3 separate regions of the Homo sapiens genome follow, and all the other regions are linked to region 1. The links come from fine-mapping of genetic effects on gene expression. A gene starts in region 1. Each other region holds a variant in brackets. All regions are shown on one strand. Distances are between the middles of the regions.

Region 1 (8,178 bases):
GTGGCGGGCACCTGTAGTCCAGCTACTTGGGAGGCTGGGGCAGAGAATTGCTTGAACCCAGGAGGCAAAGGTTGTAGTGGGCCAAGATCGTGCCACTGCACTCCAGTCTGCGTGACAGAGCAAGACTCCATCTCAAAAAAAAAAAAAAAGTGAAATATCCTAAGGTACTTCACAAAGACTTTCTGGGGTAGAAGATATATTAGAAATTAATTCTTAGCCAGGCACAGTGGCCCACACCTGTAATCCCAGCACTTTCCGAGGCCAAGGTGGGTGGATCACGAAGTCAGGAGTTCAAGACCAACCTGGCCAAGATGGTGAAACCCCGTCTCTACTAAAAATACAAAAATTGGCTGGGTGTGGTGGCGGGTGCCTGTAATCCCAGGTACTTGGGAAGCTGAGGCAGAGAATTGCTTGAACCCGGGAGGTGGAGGTTGCAGCGAGCTAAGATCGCGCCACTGCACTCCAGCCTGGTAATGGAGTGAGATGCTGTCTCAAAAAGAAAAACAAAAATTCTTCCCCGTTCAATATACATCAAAATGATCTCAACTCAGAAACAATTTAAGTCACAGAAAAGTTAATTTGGGACCTAGACTGCTCCAAAGAGGATGGGAGAGGCAGATGACACACAGATAACTGTGGCATCTTGGTGTGTACTACAGCGCTAGATTCAGCTCTGAGCCTAACTAGCTATAGGGCCTTGGGCAAGTCATTTAACTTCTGTGGGCTTCAACTTTCTCATCTATAAAATAAAAATATTTGACTCGTGAGATGCAAATGAGATAATGTATATGAATCTACCCAGCATGTAACAGAAAACGTGTGAAGAGCCTGGGTACGGTGGTTCACATCTGTAATCCCAGCACTTTGGGAGGCTGAGGCAGGTGGATTGCTTGAACCCAGGAGTTTGAGACCAGCCTTGGCAACACAGCCACACCCCATCTCTACAAAAGAAAAAAAAATTAGCCAGGTGTGGTGGCATGCGCCTGTAGTCCCAGCTTCTTGGAGCTGAGGTGGAAGGACTGCTTGAGCCTGGGAGGTCAAGGCTGTAGTGAGCCATAACCATGCCACTGCAATCCAGCCTGGGCAAGAGAATGACATCCTGTCTCCAAAGAAAAAGAAAAAAAAGCTGGGTGCGGTGGCTCACACCTATAATCCCAGCACTTTGGGTGACCGAGGCGGGCGGATCACTTAAGACCAGGAGTTCAAGACCATCCTGGCCAACATGGTGAAATCCCATCTCTAGTAAAAATACAAAAAATAGCTGGGCATGATGGTGGGTGCCTGAAATCCCAGCTACTCGGGAGGCTGAGGCAGGAGAATCACTTGAACCCAGGAGTTGGAGGTTGCAGTGAGCCGAGATTGCACCACTGCCCTCCAGCCTGGGCAACAGAGTGAGACTCCTTCTCAAAAAAAAAAAGCTGGGTGGTGGTGGCATGCACCTGTGGCTCTAGCTACTCAGAAGGCTGAGGTGGGAAGACAGCTTGAGCCTGGGAGGTCAAGGCTGCACTGAATCATGATCACACCATTGCACTCCAGCCTGGATGACAGAGGGAAGACACTGTCTCAAAGGAAAAAAAAGGTGTGAAGAAAGGAGAAAAGTTTGGCCTCTGGTCCAGAGCTCAAATATCTCTAGTGCTTACTCGCTGTATGACCTGCAGCAAGTCAATTTTGCAGTGCTTCAGTTTCCACATCTGTACAATGAGGATAGTACCACCTATTTCATAGGGTTTGGGGGCTGGCCATGGTGGCTCATGCCTGTAATCCCAGCACTTTGGGAGGCCGAGACAGGAGGATTGCTTGAGCCTAGGAGTTCAAGACCAGACTGGGCAACATAGGGAAACCCTGTCTCTATAAAAAATGGAAAAAATTAGCTGGGTGTTTTGGTTAGGGAGGCTGAGGTGGGAGGAACTCTTGAGCCAGGGAGGTCAAGGCTGCAGTTAGCTATGACTGCACCACTGCACTCCAGCCTGGGTGACAGAGAGCAACCCTGTTTCAAAAAAAAAAAAAAAAAAAAAAAAAGGATTTGGGGGAGAAGTAAGAGACGATACAGGCAAAGCTCTCAGAATAGTGACTTGCATATAGTAAGTGCTCAATAAAGGTTGCCAATTTTTACTGGTTGAAAGCATAGGCTCTGATTTGCCTGAGTTTGAATCCTGGCTCTAACATTTATTAACTGTGTGATTTTGTGCGTATTTTATCTTGCTGCTGTCATCATTACAAGAGAGGTAATAAGCTTTCTTTAGAGAATTCTTACGAAGATTGAGATAAGATATGTAAAACCTAGTTCTATTTCCAGCAGTCAGTAACAGCTCTAAAAGTGTGACTTGCTATTCTTATTCTCCACATGATTATTCTCGTTTACCCTTGCAGAAAGTTTGAGCTATTCCACCTTATATTTGCAACTACACATGCAAATATGCTAGAAAGGAAGCAATTTTTTTTTTTTTTTGAGACACAGTCTCGCTCTGTCGTCCAGGCTGGAGTGCAGTGGTGCAGTGGCCCGATCTCGGCTCACTGCAAGCTCCGCCTCCCACGTTCACGCCATTCTCCCGCCTCAGCCTCCCGAGTAGCTGGGACTACAGGTGCCTGCCACCACGCCCGGCTAATTTTTTTGTATTTTTAGTAGAGATGGGGTTTCACCATGTTAGCCAGGATGGTCTCGATCTCCTGACCTCGTGATCTGCCCGCCTCGGCCTCCCAAAGTGCTGGGATTACAGGCGTGAGCCACCGCACCCAGCAAGGAAACAATTCAAATATAGGTACCCTTGTCAGGCAGGGTGACAGAGACCACCTATAGTCCCAGCTACTTAGGAGGCTGAGGTGTAAGGATTGCTTGAGCCCAAGAGTTAGAGGCTGCAGTGCGTTGTCATCACGCCTGTGAGTAACCACTGCATTCCAGCCAGGGCAACATAGGAACACCCCGTCTCTTAAATATAAGGTGCCCAGAAACCAAATGATTAAAGGATGAGGCGGGGTGCAGTGGCTCATGCCTGTAATCCCAGCACTTTGGGAGGCCGAGGTGAAGCAGACAGATCACCTGAGGTCAGGAGTTCGAGACCAATCCGACCAACATGGCAAAACCTCGTCTCTACTAAAAATACAAAAATTAGCCGGGTGTGGTGACACATGCCTGTAATCCCAGGAACATGGGAGATGGAGACAGAATTGCTTGAACCCGGGAGACGGAGGTTGCAGTGAGCCGAGATCGCGCCACTGCACTCCAGCCTAGGTGACAGAGCAAGACTCCGTCTGAAAGAAAAAAAAAAAAGGATGAGTGGGTTCCAGGTTGCAGTACAGTGTGAAAAGCATAACAGGCAAAGTTTCAGAGGCGGACAGACTTAGTGCCAATCTCCTTCACTTTCCAGCCGGGGTAACTTCCTGGGGTGTCGCACCACCTCTAAGCCTCAGTGGCTTGAACGACAAAGACGAAAGAATAATACATGATTGCTGTGAGTGTACTGGAAGATAATGCACGTGAACGTTACAGACAAGGAGTGATGTTCACCCAACTTTAATCTCCCTTCACTTCCCACCTCATGTAACAGGCCTCACAAGCCCTAAACAACACAGCCACGAGACAAGCAGGATAAGGAAGATTCAGGAGCTCTCAGATCCTAAACCTAGTTCCCTTTCCCCCAGGCCAGGGACGGCTGTTCCTCCCTGAACTCCTCGCCGAACGTTGGCCCCAGCAGGAGAGGGGCAAAAAGTAACGTCAATTGCCTCTGCCCCTGGCTCAGTTTAACTACCTCAGTTTATCCATCCTCCCACCCTCCACCCTCCAGGCGTCGCTAAAAGCCCTAAAGAAGGGCCCACGGAGCGAGGCTCTCGGAGTTCCCTTTCCCAGTCACGCTAAGTCCTCGCCTTCTCACCTCAATACTCCGGGGCTTCTCCATGAGACCTCAGTTTCGCCAAGCGTCACCAGGTGCAGGAAGCCATATTGGCCTGCCCCGTCGCTCTCCGCGAGAGCACTCATTGGTCGCCTCCCTGAGCCGCGGGCCAATCACGCTGCAGGAAGGAGGAAAAGCCGGTTCCGTGCCTGCTCCCGCCATTCTCTCCCTGTGGGCGGGGAAGCCGCGGGCGGTTATGGGAATTGTAGTTCGCATGTGTGCAGGGTGAGTCGTTACCATAGCGACGTGGAAACCAGGGGCGCTGGAAACCTGGTGCGCCTCACGCCGAGTGTTCCAATTACGCCAACCTCTTGACTTCACTGGATGTTATTCTTCCCTAAACGGTTATTGAGCACCTATGATAGTCACTGTTCCAGACTCCAGGAATAACCTCGTACTCTCCCGGGTTAGATATTTAAGGTGCCCTTTTGCTGGGATGCATAGCAGAGGGACTCATTTCCAACTCAGGCAGAAACTGGACTACTCCAGATTAAAAAGAAAAAAAAAAGGAAGAAACTGGAATACTCTGTGTGTGTGTGTGTGTGTGTGTGTGTGTGTGTGTGTGTGTGTGTGTGTGTTTTCTTGAGACGAAGTCTTGCCCTGTCGCCCAGGCTGGAGTGCCGTGGCGCGATCTCGGTTCACTGCAACCTACGCCTGCCAGGTTCAAGCGATTCTCCTGCCTCAGCCTCCCAAGTAACTGGGACTACAGGCGCCCACCACCAAGCCCGGCTAATTTTTGTATTTTTTAGTAGAGACGGGGTTTCACCAGGCTGGTCTTGAACTCCTGACCTCGGGATCCACCCGCCTCGGCCTCCCAAAGTGCTGGGATTACAGGCGTGAACCACCGCGCCCGGCTGAAACTGGAATATTCTTTTTCTCAATACTGTAAATGTCCAGCCTGCTCAAAATCTTACAACATTCCTCCTTCACCACTCTCTCCTGGGTAAAAACCTCGAATCTGAGGCTCTCTGCCTCATCCCGTTAGGGTTTCCCACAACCTCCTTAGACACCCTGAGTTCTAGGTGCTGTTGTGGAGCTTTGCAAACATCTTTTCAAACCCTTAGACATCCTATCACCGTTTGAAAGAAGAGGAAGTGGTGGCTCTTCACCACTTCAGGTTTAGGCACTTTCCAAGATCACACAGGATTGGGATTCCAAATTTAGTACAGATTCCTTCCCTATGCCATGCCGTGTCCCAGTGAATTAATTGAGACTCTAAATGCAATATGTGGAGGCTGAATACATATAAAATATATGCCTAAATTTGAAGTCCGCCGTGGAGATGTCAAACTCTTCCTAGAGGTCTTTCTTTCCTTCAACCCCTTCCACCCTAAACCCCTGTATCCATGCTGTCAACGTGTTGGTTTTTCTACCTCCAAAATATATCCTGTATTTCCTCCACCACTACCACTCTAATACAAGCCACCGGCCCATTGCAGCAGCCCTTCAACTGGTCACCCTTTCTTTCTTTCTTTTATTGATTGATTGATTGATTGAGATGGAGTCTCCCCTGTCGCCCAGGCTGGAATGCAGTGGGATCTCCACTCACTGCAACCTCCACCTCCTGTGGTCACCCTTTTTAAATCTTCACCTTTAATACACACAGGTGATCTTTAAAACTCATTGACCTGGCCGGGTGCAGTGGATCACGCCTGTAATCCCAGCACTTTGGGAGGCCAAGATGGACAGATCACAAGGTCAGGAGATCGAGACCAGCCTGGCCAAGATGATGAAACCCTATCTCTACTAAAAATACAACTATTAGCTGGGTGTGATGACGGGTGCCTGTAATCCCAGCTACTTGGGAGGCTAAGGCAGGAGAATCGCTTGAACAAGGGAGTCAGAGGTTGCAGTGAGCCGAGATTGCACCACTACACTCCAGCCTGGGCAACAGAGCAAGACTCCATCTCAAAAAATAAAAATAAAAATAAATGTTCTGGAATAAGATAGTGGTGAAAAAAAAAGAAAAAGACAGGTTGGTTCAGCAAGTGCAAAGGCCACATTGGTGGAACAGCAAGTGCAAAGGTCCTGGGGCCAACTCAAGCTTGGTATGCAATAAACAGAAAGACAGAGAGAGTAGATGGATATAGCAAAACATGGAGAGGGTGATACAAGATGAGGTTTGAGAGAAAGCTGAGACCAGGTCATTCAGGGTCTTGTGGAGTGCTTGGATTTTATTCTGTGCAAGGGAACGGCATTAGAGTTTTTTTGTTTGTTTGTTTTTGAGACAGAGTTTCACTCTTGTTGCCCAGGCTTGAGTGCAATGGCGCGATCTCGGCTCATCACAACCTCTGCCTCCCAGGTTCAGGCAATTCTCCTGCCTCAGCCTCCCAAGTAGCTAGGATTACAGGCATGCACCACCACACCTGGCTAATTTTTTTTTTTTTTTTTTGTATTTTTAGTAGAGATGGGGTTTCTCCATGTTGGTCAGGCTGGTCTCGAACTCCCGACCTCAGGTGATTCGCCCACCTGGGCAAATGGTCTTGATCGCCTGACCTCGTGATCCGCCTGCCTTGGCCTCCCAAAGTGCTGGGATCACAGGCCTGAGCCACTGTGCCCAGCTAAAAATTTTTTAAAATTAGCTAAGTGTAGTGGCATGTACCTGTGGTCCCAGATACTCTGGAGGCTGAGGAGGGAGGATTGCTTGAGCCCAGGAGGTTGAGGCTACAGTGAACCATGTTCATGCCACTGCACTCTACCCTGGTGACAGAGAAAAAAAAAAGTTGTCTGGCTGGGCATGGTGGCTCACACCTGTAATCCCAGCACTTTGGGACGCTGAGGCAGGTGGATAACTTGATATCAGGAGTTCTGCCAGACGCGGTGGCTCACGCCTGTAATCCCAGGACTTTGGGAGGCCAAGGTGGGCGGATCACCTGAGGTCAGGAGTTCAAGACCAGCCTGGCCGACATGGTGAAACCCCATCTTTACTAAAAATACAAAAATTAGCCGGGCTTGGTGAGGCATGCCTGTAATCCCAGCAACTCCGGAGGCTGAGGCAGGAGAATCGCTTGAACCTAGGAGGCGGAAGTTGCAGTGAGCTGAGATCGCGCCATTGCACTCCAGCTTGGAAAAAAAACAAAAAAGGAATTCTAGACCACCCTGGCCAACATGGTGAAAACCCTGTGTCAATTAAAAAAAATTACAAAATATTAGCCTGGTGTGGTGGCACAAGCGTATAGTCCCAGCTACTTGGGAGGCTGAGGTGGGTGGATCACTTGAGGTCAGGAGTTTGAGACCAGCCTAGCTAACATGGTGAAACCCCATCTCTACTAAAAATAGAAAAATATTGGCCGGGCACAGTGGCTCATGCCTGTAATCCAAGGACTTTGGAAGGCTGAGGCAGGTGGATCACCTGAGGTCAGGAGTTCGAGACCAGCCTGACCAATATGGTGAAACCCCATCTGTGCTAAAACTACAAAAATTAGCCGGGTGTGGTGACATGCGCCTGTAGTCTCAGCTACTCGGGAGGCTGAGACCGGAGAATTGCTTGAATCAGGGCGGTGGAGGATGCAGTGAGCCGAGATTATGCCACTGTACTCCAGCCTGGGCGACAGAGCAAGATTTTCTCTCAAAAAACAAACAAACAAACAAAAACCAACAACAACAAAAAAGTTGTCTGGGTGGAATAGCACAATGGCAGGGCATAGAGCAGAAGAGGTGAGTTTAAGGGATTTATGTACATAGTTTGGAACAGAAGAGCACGTTTGTGTTGCTATTGGGAGTGATCTAGTAGAGAGAGACAGATCAATGATCCCAGACAGAGGGACAGTGATGCACAGAGGGAGGGCCTTAAAAGAGAGGAGCGTATTAGGTCCACATGTAGAGGGATGAATTAGTCCAGCCAAAAAGGGTACCTTTGCTGCAGGATGAAACCCCTGCCCAGGAGCTCCATAGCAGAAGGAACTGCCACACTGTTACTGTTCTGGGGCGGCCACTATTGCTTAGCAACCTGTGCTTAATAAGATGTTTCAACTGAATTCCTAATAAACGGCCATTTCAACTTACGCCAACGGTTCCTGTCACTGGTGTTCCTGCTCTGCTTATCTCATACGCTGAAACTGGATGCTCAGGTTTTTACTTCCTTGTACTGTTGATGTATGCATTTTTTGCTTTTGTTTTTTTTTTTTCTGGAGACGGAGTTTCGCTCTTGTTGCCCAAGCTAGAGTGCAATGGCGTGATCTCAGCTCACTGCAACGTCTGCTTCCTGGGTTCAAGCGATTCTCCTGCCTCAGCCTCCCGAGTAGCTGGGATTACAGGCATGCGCCACCATGCTAGGCTAATTTTTGTATTT
Region 2 (8,178 bases), 140 kb before region 1:
CATTTCTTGGGCGAGATAAAGGGGGCACCGAGGGTATGGTGGCTTAGCCACTGCACTAATGACAGCCACTGCAGTCCTGAGCTCCTCCCTTAGAGCCAGACCCCATGCCCACGTTGATGACTGCATAGTCTCACCAGCTCCTTGCCATAGCAGGTGGCAAGAGGGGTCTCACTATGTTGCCCAGGCTGATCTCAAACTCCTGGCCTCAAGGGATCCTTCTGCCACAGCCTCCTGAGTAGCTGGGCTACAGGTGAGCTACCACACCCAGCTAGTGTTCTCTCTTTCAAAGGTCCCATAAGCCCCTCACTCCTTCCCTGCCAGGCTCCTGGCCAGAAGGAAAAAGAAACAGATGGGGAGGGGAAAAGAGGACTGCACAGGAGACTGATGGAGGGCAGCAGGGACCAGGAAGAGGGGAGAAAAAGAGAAGAGGACCAGGAACAAAGAAGTCAGGGAGCAAGGGAATGCTCGAGGTGGTGGGCAGCCCTGCCAGCCAGCCTGGCCCAGGGACCCCCCGGCAGCCTGCCCTGCTCCCTGCCACACCCTGGTCAGCCTCTTGAAGGGTCCAGGGGCCCAGCCTTCCCCCAAGTTAATCAGCAGGTGGCCTCATGTGGATGAAAGGGTCAGTGCTCATGCCTGGATGGCACAGAGGCCTCATCTCACACTTACTGTCTCCTGGGCGCTGTGCCCACCCCTCTGAGCCCGAGGGTCCTCCACTGTCATCTACAGTTACAGTGATCCCACCACCTGGGGACGATGTGAGCACAGGGCAGCTTAGGTTGGCTCCTGTGAGCCTCACACCCACCCCAGGAGATACGAGGGCCAGGGTTCTGATCCCCGCCTGGGGGTGATGGACAGGAATGCCGCAGGTGGGGAGGGAGAAGAGCGAGCCCCGGACAGGACGTCAGAGAACCTGGGAATTGCCCCACTCAGTGTGCCCCTGGGCAAGTCACTAACAATCTCTCAGCCTCAGCTTCCCCATCTGCAAATGCCACAATCCCATGCTCTCTTCAGGACCATGGCGAAGATCAGGAGGGATGGGAGGGGATACCACAATCAGTGGTGTCAGTCCGAGCAGTACTGGGATATTTACAAGGTCTCAACGTATTTCTCCTGAAGACCTTTTTTTCTTCTTTTTTTTTTTTGAGATGGAGTCTCACTCTGTCACCCAGGCTGGAGGTCAATGGCACAATCTCAACTCACTGCAACCTCTGCCTCCTGGGTTCAAGTAATTCTCCTGCCTCAGCTTCTCAAGTAGCTGGAATTGCAGGTGCCCGCCACCATGCCCGGCTAATTTTTTTGTATTTTTAGTAGAGACGGGGTTTCGTCATGTTTGCCAGGCTGGTCTCAAACTCCTGACCTCAGGTGATCCGCTCACCTCAGCCTCCCAAAGTGCTGGGATTACAGGCGTCAGCCACCACGCCAGGCCTCCTGAAGACTTTTTATTTATTTATTTATTTTTTGAGACGGAGTCTCACACTGTCGCCCTAGCTGGAGTGCAACAGCGTGATCTCAGCTCACTGCAACCTCCACCTCCCGGGTTCACACGATTCTCCTGCCTCAGCCTCCCGAGTAGCTGGGACTACAGGCGCCCGCCACCACGCCCAGCTAATTTTTTGTATTTTTAGTACAGATGGGGTTTCACTATGTTGGACACGCTGGTCTCGAACTCCTGACCTCGTGACCCGCCCGCCTCAGTCTCCCAAAGGCTGGTGGGATTACAGGGGTGAGCCACTGCGCCGGGCCTCTGAAGACCTTTATTAATTACAAACTATAGAAATGATCCCTGAAAGTATAGTCTTAATTACAAAGAGGAAAGCTCTAATTTTACAATAGAGAAATGTTTACAATGGAGGCACCTTGAATCAAGTTATGAAAGTTTAATTAGATTGTCACCAGTGAAGGGACACACTGAGATGACGCATCCCCTGATGTGTGAGCTGAGAACACGACATCACCTCTGTGGAATGAGGAAACTCACACGAGCCCAGAGGGATGGACCTTTTACAAAACATCTGGCTCTTCAAAAACCTCAATGCAACACAAGGCAAAGACTAAAGAACCGTTTCTTCATCAAGGGAGATGAAAAAGAGACACGACAAGGCTCATGCCTGTAATCGCTGCACTTTGGGAGGCCAAGGTGGGAGGATTGCTTGAGCCCAGGAGTTTCAGATAAGCCTGGGCAAGATGGCAAGCCCCACATCCCCAGACCCACGGTCTTAAAAAATAGACAAATCAGCCAGGTGTGGTGGTGCATGCCTGTAATCCCAGCTACTCAGGAGGCTGAGGCAGGAGGATCACCTGAGACCAGGAGGTGGAAGCTGCAGTGGGCCATGATCATACCACTGCACTCCAGGCTGGGTGACAGAGCAAGACCCTGTCTCAAAATAAAATAAAATAAAATAAAATAAAATGAGACACAACAGCTGAATGTGTACATTATCCAAGTTACTTTCATAACTTATTCGAGGTGCCTCCATTGTAAACATTTCTCTATTGTAAAATTAGAGCCTTCCTGTTTGTAATTTGGGGACAATTCACAAAATCTGAATAATGGCATAGTATCAGAAGGCCTTACCATGCTGCTGCTGGCCTTCCCCGCATGCGCCTCCATCTGCTGCCAGTACTTCTTAGACTCCTGAACGATGTCTTCGTGGGTCATGCCTGGGGAGGGTGGGGGCAGACACAGGCATCTTTCAAGGTGCTCAGCAAGGAGGGAGGCAGGGGGTCCACGAGGTGCCAGGGACCCCCGAGGCCCAGCTGGAGGAGCCCTATTCTCAGCCCAGCCACAGTAAGACATGGGGTACAAGGGAACCACTTTGTCCATCTGCAAAATGGGAACAAAGACCTGCTCCGAGCCTCACTGGAAGTGAAAGAATTAAATGCAGCCAAGAGTGGGAAAATGCAGTAGAAAGATATTGGCTCTGTACTGTGGTAGGGAGTCCTCTGCTCCCATGCCAGTGACCCTGTCTCTTGGGCCGGTGACTCAGCACCCTTCCCTGACCCCCATCTCCCTCAACAGGGCTGCAAGCCTAGTGCCTGCTTGGCAGCCCCTGGCCTCACTGGCACTTAGGGCTCCATGCCTGCCCAGCCTGGCTCACCGGTTCACTGTGGTACCACGGCTCTTTACTGCCAGTCCCCAAAGGGCAAATACCCCAGCCTGGTGGCATGGACTCTCCAGTCTGTCTCCCCGCCAGCCTCAGACTGTTGCCACTGAGCCCGACCTTGGAGATCCAGCTCACAACTCTTCCATGAAGCCTGCCCTCTTTTCAGCGCTCTCCATCTTTCTCACGTCTTTCCCACAACAGATGTGGCCTTCCACCTTGACCTATGGCCCCTGCTCCACGACAGCTAATCATCATCGGTGCTTACTTGGGGCAAGACACTGCACTTGACATCCAGTTTCTTGCTGATGATCTGCAAGTATGTATCTACAGGCCAGACCTTTCCTGTGAACCTCCAGATCCCCACATCTGCTGCTTCCAACATCTCCATGTGAAGTCCACCAGGCAGCTCAGACTTCCCACGTCCCACACTGAGCCTGAGCTGCTCCTCTTACAGCCTGCCCCCTCTTAGAACATGGTAGCCCCATTCTTCCTGTTGCTCTGATCTTAGAGTCCACCTTGACGCTCTCCTTTGTCTCATACTTCATATCTGATCCATCAACACATCTTGTTGGCTCCACCCTCAAAATACACCTAGAATCTAACCACTTCTCCCACCTCCAGCATCACCACCCTGGCCCGAGCCACCCTCCCTGATCTCCCGGCTTCTGCCCTTGCTCCTCGATCTCCACCCAGCAGCCAGAGTGACTTTTGCAAAGTACTGATCAGATCATATAACTCCACCCACTTAAAACCCTCCTCCAGACACTGTAAATCATATTTAGAACAACCCCAGTTGTTCCTGTTTAAGGCCTAGAGACTCTTACATGCTCAGTCCCCTCCAACCTCTCAGGCCTCATTCCCCTTCTACTGACTAAGCTGCTCTACCC[C/T]CAGGGACCATCCTTTCTGTGCAGAGCTTGCTCCTGCCTCAGAGACTTCAGTCTGGTCCCTCTTCTGGAATGCACTCCCCGCCCTTCCCTGGTCAAAAGTCACTTCCTCAGAGAGGCCTTCCCAGCCATCTTACCTAAAATGCTCCCATCCCCGAGTCTGTCTCTGTCCCATTGCTCGGCTTTATCTTCCTCATAACACTGAGGCACGCCTGAAATGCTACCACTGCATTTCACCAACTCTAAGCAGACACTGAATGTTATATGTACCATATTTTAAATCCCCGCCCCACAAAATGCTGCTAATTAAATGATGACAGGCAGTAGGGGTAAATGTGCATCCTAGAATGGATGGAATACAGGATTTATTCACCTGTTGATATATTATCTGTCTGGCCCCCACTTATAAATGTAGGTTCTCTGAAAGTAAGGGCCTCGACTAGACCATGGCTGAATGCCCTGACAAGAGAAGGTGCTCAGTAAATCCCTGGTGGGTGAGTGGAGAACACCTTCCAATCCCCGCAGCAGCTCTGTGAGGAAGAGATGGGGCTCCCCATTTCCCAGATGAGCACTGGAGGCTCAGTGAGGAGCGGGGACTTGCTGCCGACCACCCAGGGAGCAAGCAGAGGTCCTGCTGCAGGAGCCCAGGTGCTCCTCTCCCCTCTCCGTGCTCCCTGGACGGTGCCTACGAAGGGAAAAACCCAGATCTCCGAGCCTGGAAGCGCCCTGAGAGCAGAGCTTCTCTCCTCTGTGGTGCCTGGGACACACAGAGAGCCCACCCCGCAGCCACCTCTCCTGAACTCTCCCGAAGCCCCCTCCAGCGACCATGGGGCCCTGGCCTGTCACCCCAGTCAGTCCTGCGCTCCCTTCACCTGCGCCGCCTACCCCTCACCTGAGTCACCTGCCCTCCACCTGCACCGCCTGCCCCTCACCTGAGTACTGCTGCAGCAGCCAGACCTTGAGCTCGATGAAGCTGTGGGCGAAGTGGCAGCTGTCCTCCCGCAGGCAGCCGTAGCGCACCTCATGGCGGCACACGTCGAACTGGAAGTGCTCCTGGAACTGGCGGATCTTGGAGTACTTGAGGGAGGTGGAGCGGACGATGTGCACCAGGCACCTGGCGGGCGGGCAGGCAGGAGGGGCACGATGCAGTCCGCAGCCCCTCTGACCTTCTCTCCTGGTAGGGCCACCTTCCCAGTGCCAGGCTCTCCCTGGGCACCCCCTGATCTATGTACCAAATCCAGGCCATGGATGACACAGGAGGGCAGAAACAGGGCTCCTATGCTCAGGCACCCCTGGGCCTGGGTCCCAGCGCTGCTTTACTCCTGTCCCTCCCCCAGGGTTCAAAGATGGAGCTGCCAACAAGCAAAGGGCACCGCCCTCAGGTTTCCAGCTTGATTCTGCAGAGCCGGTCCTGCATCCTGAGGAACACTAACCAAGCATGTCCTCTGGGCCAGGAGTCTTAATTACCCTCACTGCAGCCCCAGGAGCCTAGAGCATCATCAGCTTTACAGACGAGGAAACCCAGGCTTGGACGTAAGACAGGACTGGCCCAGGAATTGGACCCAGGTCTGTCTGACTGCAGGCCCTGGGCTCCATATGCACACCATGGCAGAACCAAGGGGAACAAGAGGGAGAAAGGGGTGGTGCCAGACCTGACCCAGGCCTCCCCTCACTGCCTGACACTGATGTCATGACATTGGAGGGTGCTGGGCTACAGTCAGAGACGAGGCCCCCCGCTTGCTGTCTGCTGAGTAAGCTGAGTAAGCTAAGTAAGCTACTTCCAAGCCTCAGCTTTTTGTTCTGTACAACAGGGCCAGTAACTCCTCCCTCACAGGATTGCTAAGATAATTAACATACCCAAGATGACGCTTGGAATATAGTAGATGTTCGACAAATGTGATTCTCATCCTTTCCAGGTGGAGGCTGGATTTGATTCCCAAATTCTGCCCCTTTCCTTGCACCCTACATCCACCCTTTCAGTTCAGCCTTTCCTCAGCCATCTGAGCTGCCTGAGGGGACTCTCCACTGGCCCCTAGGCCTCAGCCTGGGCTGAGGGTCCCACTCACTTGTTGTTGTAGAAGCTGTGCTTGGCAGCCAGGTTGGAGCAGACAGACGGAGAGTCCTTGGTGCCTTTGCTGATGATCCGGGGTTTACTGTCAAAGCAGATCTGCCCAGGGAGGGGAAGGGCTGGGACCTGGCATGGCCACCTGGGAAGGGGGTGAGCTGGGACCCCACACAGCTAGCTGGGGAAGGACAGCTGGGTCCCTGCAAGCCCTGCCCTGGGTCAGAGGAGTGAGGAAGGGAATCCCAGGGTCTGTGGTCTTGCCTCTCTGCTTCCAGCTCACAGGTGACCTGGGCTTTGGCTCCCTTCCTCACCCTCCTCCCTCCCTCTGATCCCACCACTCCCAATGCCTGAGGCAGGGGGTTACTTCATGTCAAAAAAAAGATAAAAAGGAATGGCAAGTTCTTTATGAACTACAGGCTGTCACCTGGCTATGAACTATGATTCCCAGGCCAATGCTCCCTGTGGGGGGTTGGCACAAGTCCCGACCTGGAAGAGCTAGGGGAAGGGCTGGTGGTGCCAGGGATGAGGGTTGGACTGAGCGGCACCAAACCCTGCCAGCAACCCGGACCTGGAGCCCTTGCTCTACGGACACAGACGTGCCACTGCCCCTGCCCTCAACATGCTATGACTGGGTGGGGAGACAGGGGCCAAGTTCACTCCGGAGGCCAAGCGGGGTCTTCAGGGACAGCTTTGGGGAGGGAATTAACAGCTCAGTGGGGCTGCTGGGATCAGAGTCCAGCTGAGAGGTTCCAAGCCCAGAAACACAGGACAGCGCCCTGTGGGGAGGGCAAACCCAGGCAGGGAAGCGCAATGGCCACTGAAGCCAGGAGGGCCGAGGAAAGGCATGTGGAGGAGGCCTGAGACGTGGGGCCGTGGACACGGCGCTTGGGACGGCTAAGCAGTGCCAAATACATCATACCCACAACAAGGGATGCGGGGGAAGCCCCGGACAGGCCCTCAATCTGCCTGTGTCCTGGGGGTTTGGCTGTGGGGACCACCAGCAGCAGCTGGTGCTGGGAGGTGGGCATGACTCCAGGGACAGGCTGCCTGGGTTTGAAGCTCAGTTCTGCACGGCACTGTCTGTGTGGCTGAGGGCAGTTCCTCGCTACCCTGAATCTCAGCCTCAACATCTGTAAAATGGGGATATCTGCCTGCCAGCACTGCCGTGACGATGGAAATGACATTTTTTTTTTTTTTTTTTTGGAATAGGGTCTCACTCTGTCACCCAGGCTGGAGTGCAGTGGTTCGATCTTGGCTCACTGCAGCCTCTACCTCCTGGACGCAAGCAATCAATCCTCCCACCTTAGCCTCCTGAGTAACTGGGACGGGAGGCGCATGCCACCAAGCCCAGCTAATTTTTAATTTTTTTTTGAGATGGAGTCTCTAGTGCAGTTGCGCGATCTCGGCTCACTGCAACCTTTGCCTCCCCAGTTCAAGTGATTCTCCTGCCTCAGCCTCCCAACTAGCTGGGACTACAGGCGTGCACCACAACGCCCAGCTAATTTTTGTATTTTTAGTAGAGACAGGGTTTCACCGTGTTGGCCAGGCTGGTCTCAAACTCCTGACCTCAATTGATTTGCCCGCCTCAGCCTCCCAAAGTGCTGGGATTACAGGCGTGAGCCACTGCATCAGGCTAGGAATGAGAAACGAAAACAACCACGTGCCAAGCCCTGCCTATGACTGGCTGTCAGAAAAGAGCAGGTGTGAGGGTTATGATTTTTCTTTCCAGCCTCAGTTTCTGCCTCTGCAAAATGAGGGGGCTGGATCAGATCTGGCCTCTAGCAAGATAGGATCCTAGGGCCCAGACTTACTGACCCTCCAGGACCTACTGGTTCTAAGACCAGGCCTCCACAGCCCACGGGTTCCAGGGCTGACTTCCTATGGTGGTCCGTGCCAGGGAGCATCCCCAGCCCTGTCTGTGCCATGGCCTATGGGGTGGCAGTGGGTGGGTGGGCAGTACCTCGCAGAGGAAGGTGAAGATGCCCTGGTGCTCCTTCAGGAGCTTGGCGATGGTGAGGCTGCCGCGCTTAACACCCCCCAGCGGGTCGAAGAGCAGGTCGCGGTTGAGGGTGCCCTTCCGCTCCTCGGTCCACACGTCGATCTCCTCCTGATGGTAGGCGAAGGT
Region 3 (8,178 bases), 100 kb before region 1:
GCCTCCCGAGGATGTATTATTTTTAAGAGTAAGTGGAAAACTAGAAGCAACCTTAATGTCTACCAGTAAAGGATTAATTTAATTAACTAATTTAATTAAAATGAATTAAATTAGTTAATTAAATTCCATACCATGGAATACAATGCAGCTATTGAATCTATATGTATTGTCATGGAGATGCCTCCATGCATGGTTGAGGAACAAAAAACGAAGCAGATTTCTCTGTTGGGGGCTCGTCTTATTCTGCCCAGGTCTCAAGACCAACATCCCCGAGCTTCCATTTAAGGGACAGTGCTCCTGCTCTCTTCACTACCTGCTCCCCAGATGAGCTCTTGCATTTCATGATAACATGAGTCATGTTAACGACTCGCCTATCTCTTCCTCCTGCCAGGCCCACCCCCTTCCCCAGTATTTCAGACTCATATCTCTTATCTTCTGGGTAGTGGTACCTGGAAGTCCAACACCCAGGCTGCCTATGACTTCCATCCCTTTCTTAATCTTGGGCCCTCTACCTGGAATGCCCTCTGCCACACACACCTTCCCAACTCCTACTCATCCTTTAAGACCCAGCTTAGATGCCTCTGTGTCCAAAGTCCTCTTTGGTGCCATCTCAGCTGGATTGGGTGTTTCTCCAACTGAACACATTCCAAACTGAACTCAGCATCTTCTCCCCTAATCCTACTCCTCTTCCATTATTCCCTGACTCTATTCATAGCTCTGAGCATCATCCTGTTCTCAGCCACCTTTACCTCATAAATATTTCCCCACCCTGCAACCCCTCATATCCTCTCCACAAGCACGGCCACCTCTCGGACCCTCAACATCTCTTGCCAAGTTTCCAATGCACCCCCTCCAATATGCTCCCATTCAGTGGTCAGGGATATCTGTGTAACGCATATGCCAATGTCACTCCCCCACTCAAAACCGATGTGCACACATGCACATATACACGCGAATGAATGCAGGCTAAAAAAAAAAAAAAAAAAAAGTGAGGCTGGGCGCGGTGGCTCACACCTGTAATCCCAGCACTTTGGGAGGCCGAGGCGGGCAGATCACGAGGTCAGGAGATCGAGACCATCCTGGCTAACACGGTGAAACCCCCTCTCTACTAAAAACACAAAAAAATTAGCCGGGGGTGGTGGCGGGCACCTGTAGTCCCAGCTACTCGGGAGGCTGAGGCAGGAGAATGGCGTGAACCCAGGAGGCGGAGGCTGCAGTGAGCCGAGATAGTGCCACTGCACTCCAGCCTGGGTGACAGAGCAAGACTCCATTAAAACAAACAAACAAAAAACTCCCTTTTTAAAACAGTAACAGAAGGTCATTGTAAAAGCTTTGGAAATTATAAATTTGGAAATTATAAAATTAAAAAATAAAATTTGGAAATTATAAAATTAAAAAATAAGCCAGAATCACCCAGAGCTTAGAGTGACTGTCTAACACTGTGGCATACCCTGTTCCTCTTGAGCAGTTAAGTAGTCACTGCTCCTGCTCCCAGGGAGCTTGGAAATCCTTGTGGTGCATCATTGGGCATCAAGAGAGTTTCCAGTGCTGCTCTGCTTGCTTTCGTGCCTTGTGCTGACAGGGAGGCAGGCTAGGCCATGCAATCCACCAGCCCTGGGTTCAGATCCCAGCACTGTCCCACACTGGCTTTCAGGGCACCTCCCTGAGCCTCAGTTTTGTCATCTGGGAGACAGGGATGATGATACACACCTGACAAGACAATTTTGCAGCTCCACCTGGTGTGCCTCCCCCTGAAGGGGTCAGAAATTCATGTTTCTGCTAAACTGGGTGCTGTAGAGAGCACTCACAACAGACATAATTATCCTGTAAGTTTTCAATCACTCAATGTTGATTTACGGAGTCTCGCTCTGTCGCCCAGGCTGGACTGCAGTGGCGCCATCTCTGCTCACTGTAAGCTCCGCCTCCCGGGTTCACACCATTCTCCTGCCTCAGCCTCCCGAGTAGCTGGGACTACAGGTGCCCGCCACCACGCCTGGCTAATTTTTTGTATTTTTAGTAGAGACGGGGTTTCACTGTGTTAGCCAGGATGGTCTCGATCTCCTGAACTTGTGATCCGCTCACCTCGGCCTCCCAAAGTGCTGGGATTATAGGCATGAGCCACCGTGCTCAGCCATCAATGTTGATTTCTTTGCAGTTTCCCTGCCCAGTCGTGGGCTGTTTGGCAAGGGCTATTCTGTGGCCAACCTCCTACTATTATTCATTTATTCAACAAATAACCATGAAGCACTTTTAGTGCAAGGGGCCCTACCAGGTGCTAGGGGAACACAGTTAATAAAGTCCTTTCCCTGGTGCAGCTTGTCATCCATGGGCAGGAAGACAAATAAACCAGCGTGAAATGCACACGACAAGTAAAAATAGAGATCAGAGTCACAAGGAAGCTGAAGCAGGAAGCGTGGCATGGAGTGATGGAAAGTACATTAGGGCCGGATGCGGTGGTTCACGCCTGTAATCCCAGCACTTTGGGAGGCTGAGGTGGGCAGATCACTTGAGGCCAGGAGTTCAAGACCAGCCTGGCCAACATGGTGAAACCCCATCTCTAATAAAAATACAAAAATTAGGCCGGGCCTAGTGGTGGGCACCTGTAATCCCAGCTACTCAGGAGGCTAAGGCAGGAGAATCACTTGAACCCAGGAGGTCAAGATTGCAGTGAGCCGAGATCACACCACTGCACTCCAGCCTGGACGACAGAGCGAGACTCTGTCTCAAAAAAAGAAAAAAAGAAAGCAGGCCGGGCGCGGTGGCTCACGCCTGTAATCCCAGCACTTTGGGAGGCCGAGATGGGCGGATCACGAGGTCAGGAGATCGAGACCATCCTGGCTAACACGGTGAAACCCCGTCTCTACTAAAAATACAAAAATTAGCCGGGCATGGTGGCGCACGCCTGTAGTCCCAGCTACACGGGAGGCTGAGGCAGGAGAATGGCATGAACCCGGGAGGCGGAGCTTGCAGTGAGTCGAGATCGCGCCACTGCACTCCAGCCTGGGCGACAGAGCGAAACTCCGTCTCAAAAAAAAAAAAAAAAAAAAAGCAGACTGGGAGTTTAGGGAAGGCCCTTAGGAGGAAGCTGACATTTAAGAGAGATAGGTAGCCAGCCATGGAAGATAGGAGGTGGGGTAAGAGGGCACCTACCTAGCAGGGGACAGGGCACAGGCAATGGCCCTGAGGTGGGAACAAGCTGATAATGTTCCAGGAAAACTCAGAAGGCCACCGTGGCTGCAACACCCAAGCAAGGGCAAGCCACGTGGGAGGCAAAGTGCAAGGGGCAGGCGAGGCTGGTCTCAGAACCACTCACAGGCCATGCCGGGAGCCAGGGCTGTGTTTTGCGTGTGTCAGGAAACTGCAGGAGAGTTTTCAGCAGAAGAGTGACAGGAGCTTATTTATTTCGCAAGAAGATCCTTTTGGCTACTGCAGGGAGGACGTATGACAAGAGAGGATACTGGGAGATTGGTTAGGAGGCTACTGCAGTGGTTCAGGCCTGGATCAAGGCAGACAGTGAAGAAGATTCAGGAATATTCTGAAGGCTATTAAATGATCATAACTACAACCCCTGATGCAGATTCGACAGGATCAGTACGGCCGTTTCACAGAAAAGGAGACAGAAGCCAAGAATGACAAAATAATAATGCCTCCATCATACAGCCAGCATGAACAGGAGTTGGGAATGAAACTCAGGACTTTGGGCTCCCTGCCCTGCGTTCCTCAGCCTGTGGAGGGAGAGGGATGACACAGAGATGCTCCAGGGAACAAGAGCATAGCTGAACCAGGGCGACCTCTAAAAACCCCAGGAGGGCCAGAGCCCCCACCTTCCCTGCAGCCCTCACAGGAAGTGCTCAAGGAATGATCATCAGCTGACTCCAGCACTTCAGTAACACAAACCAATCAGAAGACATGGTTCTCGGTCTCAGGGAATCCAATACCCTGTTCCCCTCCCAAGTCACATTGTGGACTGGGTAGGAAGAGCAGTGGGTGGGTGATGATGCCTCAGTCTTTTTCTTCTGAAAAACAGGGACACCTCTTACCTTACCTCAAAAGACTGTCATGACAATTAATGAGAGACTGTGGACACAGCA[G/A]GACACAAATGTTGGTGGTAGTTAGGATTTCCAGATTGATAAGAAAAGAGCTTCGAGGAAACTGGAAGTAACCTGAAGACTGTCTCCTGCATGGCAGCTAAGACCTCGGATGCCAGGTGGCTTCATCTGACTCCCTTCTCTACCTCAGCTGTGTGATCTCAGAAGTGTTAACTTAGTCTTTCTGAGCCTCAGGCTCCTCATCTACAAGATGGGGCTGCCAATGATTGCTCTGGTCTTGAAGAGCTGTTAAGTGGATTCAATAAGAGAAGGCATAGGAAATGTCAAGCACGATGCTGGTATACAGTGGTGTTAACCATATGGGGGCTGCTGTTATATGGGTGTTATGTGCTGCTATATGGGTGATCGTATCCCCACGATCCCCACCAAGCTTGTGTCTCAGCCTCTGACGCTGAGGAGCTGTGATGCTGCAGAACTGAAGTTACCAGATGTTTCTGAAGGGAACAAGCGCTCTGAATGCAGGAATGTCCCTCCCTCTGGGCCTCCATAGCCCGGTGGGGAGACAGCACCAACACAACCAACACGGCACCAACACAACCAACATGCCTGCAAAGAAACAGTCTCCCTGGGGGGAATGAATTTGGTGAGAAGGAATCTGTAGCTGGTGCTGACAGAGGAAGGAAAATGAGCTTGTTTTCCAGGGGCCATGAAATGTGATGAAAGGAGCCGACTTCAGGCCCAGCACGGGCTCATGCCTATAATCCCAGCAGTAGGGAGGCCAAGGCGGGTGGATCACGAGGTCAGGAGTTCAAGACCAGTCTGACCAACATGGTGAAACACCATCTCTACTAAAAATACAAAAAAAAATTAGCCAGGTGTGGTGGTGCGTGCCTGTAATCCCAGCTACTCAGGAGGCTGAGGCAGGAGAATTGCTTGAACCCGGGAGGCAGAGGTTGCAGTGAGCCAAGATCGCACCACTGCACTCCAGCCTGGGTGACAGAATGAGACTCTGTCTCAAAAAAAAAAAAAAAAAAGAAAGGAGCTGACCTCTGTGGAGGCTCCTGGGGGCTGACGCACAGCCCATCATCAGCCCAGGCTGAGCCTCCAGCCTGGGGCTACAGCACCTCCACCCGCTGCTGTCTGAATAACCTCAGGTCTCCCCTGAGGCTCCTTCCCAGGCCCACACCAGGCCAGCTCCAGAGCCAGACATCCTGGGTTGGCTCTGCAGCTCTGCCCCTTCTGCACTTCACTGAACCTCTCTATGCCACAGTTTCTTCACCTGTAAAATGGGGATAATTACAGTGCCTCCCTCTAGGGCTGTTGAAAGAATTAAATAAAGGCTGGGTGCAGTGGCTCACGCCTGTAATCCCAGCACTTTGAGAGGCCCAGGCGGGTGGACCACTTGAGATCAGGAGTTCAAGACCAGCCTGGCCAACATGGCAAAACCCCGTCTCTACTAAAAATACAAAAATTAGGTGTGGTGGCGGACACCTGTAATCCCAGCTACTTGAGAGGCTGAGGCAGGAGGATCACTTGAACCCGGGAGGCGGAGGTTGCAGTGAGCCAAGATCGTGCCATCCCACTCCAGCCTGGGCGACAAGAGTGGAACTCCGTCTCAAAAAAAAAAAAAAAAAGAATTAAATAAGCTAATTTAGGAAAAAGCACTTGCAACAGGGCCTAGAGAATTGCTGGTTCAGTGATTACTAAATTAATAAAAATTTTTAAACACTTCTAGCTCCTTTCATCTGAGTTTCTTATCCTGATCCCCAAGCATGGGTTATCATTAAATATCATCAAATCTCAGGGCTCCTTTTCAGAAGGGGAAACTGAGGCCCAGAGAATCGAAAGGATCATGACGGCAGAGCCTGACTTGAACCCAATGTCATGTATCTGCCCACTAGACTGTGGCTGTACCAGGTGACCTGTTCTTCTTTATACATCCCTGCCTTTGTCCATCTCAATGCCTCTGCTTAGAACACCCTTTCTCTGGCTTTTCAACCTATCTTTCAGATGTTCAAATGGCACTTCTAGGAAGATCTTCTACTCTTGGGCAAAATAAACCTTCCTCCTCTACATTGGGGCATAATTCAATTTGACAACACAATGGCTGAGTGTGTCATCCTGGCACCGCCTCTGGGGCTGGAGGCACAGAGGGTGAATCAGACCCAGTTCCTGTCCTTGGGAAGCTCAGATTAATGGTCCATATCTATCTCATCCCAAGCTCTAAGCTCCTCCAGGGTGCTGGGCCGGCACCCAGCAGGCACTAAGGAACCAAACTTGCTCAGATCCCCACGCTCAGGGACCGGTCCTCCTTCTACTGCCATTCTGCTTTCTGCAGTTAGAAACCTACTGAGAGTGCTTTCACTGGTCCAGCCCCTCGGGGCCCTGGGATACAGAGCCAGTTTAGGAGAACTCCTTGGTCTTGGGGAGCCTGTTGACAATGCTACCCCAGTTTCATTTGCTAATTCAGACCATCCAGTCTCCATTTTTGTTTTTTTGAGACAGAGTTTCACTCTGTTGCCCAGGCTGGAGTGCAGTGGCGTGATCTTGGCTCATTGCAACCTCCACCCCCCAGGTTCAAGAGATTCTCCTGCCTCAGCCTCCTGAGTAGCTAGGATTACAGGCACCCACCAGCATGCCCAGCTAATTTTTTTTTTTTTTTTTTGAGACAGAGTCTTGCTCTGTCGCCCAGGCTGGAGTGCAGTGGAGCGCTCGGCTCACTGCAAGCTCCGCCTCCTGGGTTCAAGCAATTCTCCTGCCTCAGCCTCCCAAGTAGCTGCGATTACAGGTATGCACCGCCACATCCAGCTAAGTTTTGTACTTTTAGTAGAGGTGGGGTTTCACCATGTTGGCCAGGATGGTCTCAATCTCTTGACCTCGTGATCCACCCGCCCCGGCGTCCCAAAGTGCTGGGATTACAGGCGTGAGCCACCGCAGCCGGCCAATTTTTGTGTTTTTAGTGGAGACTGGGTTTCACCATGTTGCCAGGTCTGGTCTCGAACTCGTGACCTCAAGTGATCAGCTCGCCTTGGCTTCCCAAAGTGCTGGGATTATAGGACAGTCCCTGTTCTTGCTTACGTATCTGAGAGGAAGGTGGTGCAGAGGGCAGGAGCACACTCAAGAGTCAAGAAGGCCTGGATTCAAATCCTGCAGATTGACCTTGGGCTGGGCACACAAATCCCGTGTTCCTCAATTTCTTCATCTGTGAAATGGAGATTATAATGCCCACCCCTCACGGAGCTACTATAACAATTCGAGAGAATGTAAGTCAACTTCCCAGCACAGAAGCAATTGTGGCTAACCCAGAAATTCCCTTCTTCTCCACCCTGGCAAGCCTCCCCATTCTTTGAAGTTCAAATTCTACTTCCTAGAAGAAGCCTTCTCTAACTTTTCCAGGTAGCCTTGAGCTGTCTTCTCTCCACTCCCACTGCACTGACCCCAGAATTCTTGTGTTCTCATTGGTTCACTAGAATCAACTTTCTCTTTCCAGCCAGATAATAAATGACAAAGTCAATTGCAAACCTGCCCCACAGCATCTCACAAGAGGCACTTGAAAAGTAACTTGCAGACAGGCATGAGGTGGCTCACGCCTGTAATCCCAGCACTTTGGGAGGCCGAGGTGGGTAGATATGTTGAGCCCAGGAGTTCACTTGAATTCAGATATGTTGAGCCCAGGAATCACTTGAACCCGGGAGGCAGAGGTTGCAGTGACCTAAGATCATGCCACTGCACTCCAGCCTGGGTAACAGAGTGAGACTCTGTCAAAAAAAAAGAAAGAAAGAAAGAAAGAAACTTGCAGCAGCCAGGTGTGGTGGCTCATGCCTGTAACCCTATCCCTTTGGGAGGCCAAGGCAGGAGGATTGCCTGAGCCTGGCAGACTGAGCTACAATTGTGCTACTGTACTCCAGCCTGGGTGACAGAGTGAGACCTTGTCTCAAAAAATAAAAAGAAGGCTGGGCATGGTGGCTCACGCCTGTAATCCCAGCACTTTGGGAGGCCGAAGTGGCTGGATCACGAGGTCAGGAGATCAAGACCATCCTGGCTAACACGGTGAAACCCCGTCTCTACTAAAAATACAAAAAATTAGCTGGGCGTAGTGGCGGGAGCCTGTAGTCCCAGCTACTCAGGA

What was found. PIP is the estimated chance that this variant, and not a neighbour inherited with it, causes the effect. A credible set is the group of variants that fine-mapping cannot tell apart.
Region 2: its variant is the best candidate, but not a certain one, in a credible set for the expression of L3MBTL2 in whole blood (INTERVAL, PIP 0.65).
Region 3: its variant is the best candidate, but not a certain one, in a credible set for the expression of L3MBTL2 in whole blood (TOPMed, PIP 0.61).

The regions. Positions count from the first base shown.
Region 1 is chr22:41,201,078-41,209,255 of GRCh38, reverse strand. L3MBTL2 (L3MBTL histone methyl-lysine binding protein 2) reads right to left here and starts at 3,944. Exons shown (of 17, transcript NM_031488.5): 1 at 3,870-3,944. The coding sequence starts at 3,893. L3MBTL2-AS1 (L3MBTL2 antisense RNA 1) reads left to right here. Exons shown (of 3, transcript NR_148200.1): 3 at 1-134. RefSeq lists an enhancer at 2,600-3,100.
Region 2 is chr22:41,346,044-41,354,221 of GRCh38, reverse strand. It overlaps ZC3H7B (zinc finger CCCH-type containing 7B), which reads right to left. Exons shown (of 23, transcript NM_017590.6): 14 at 8,014-8,178; 15 at 6,055-6,155; 16 at 4,921-5,102; 17 at 2,576-2,661. Among named protein-coding and RNA genes, the nearest start is that of TEF, 32 kb to the left of the region's middle. The variant C/T (reference allele first, on the strand shown) is at 3,992.
Region 3 is chr22:41,303,879-41,312,056 of GRCh38, reverse strand. The region is part of intron 1 of ZC3H7B (zinc finger CCCH-type containing 7B); the gene reads right to left. Among named protein-coding and RNA genes, the nearest start is that of ZC3H7B, 6.4 kb to the right of the region's middle. RefSeq lists enhancers at 2,699-3,198, 3,199-3,700. The variant G/A (reference allele first, on the strand shown) is at 4,092.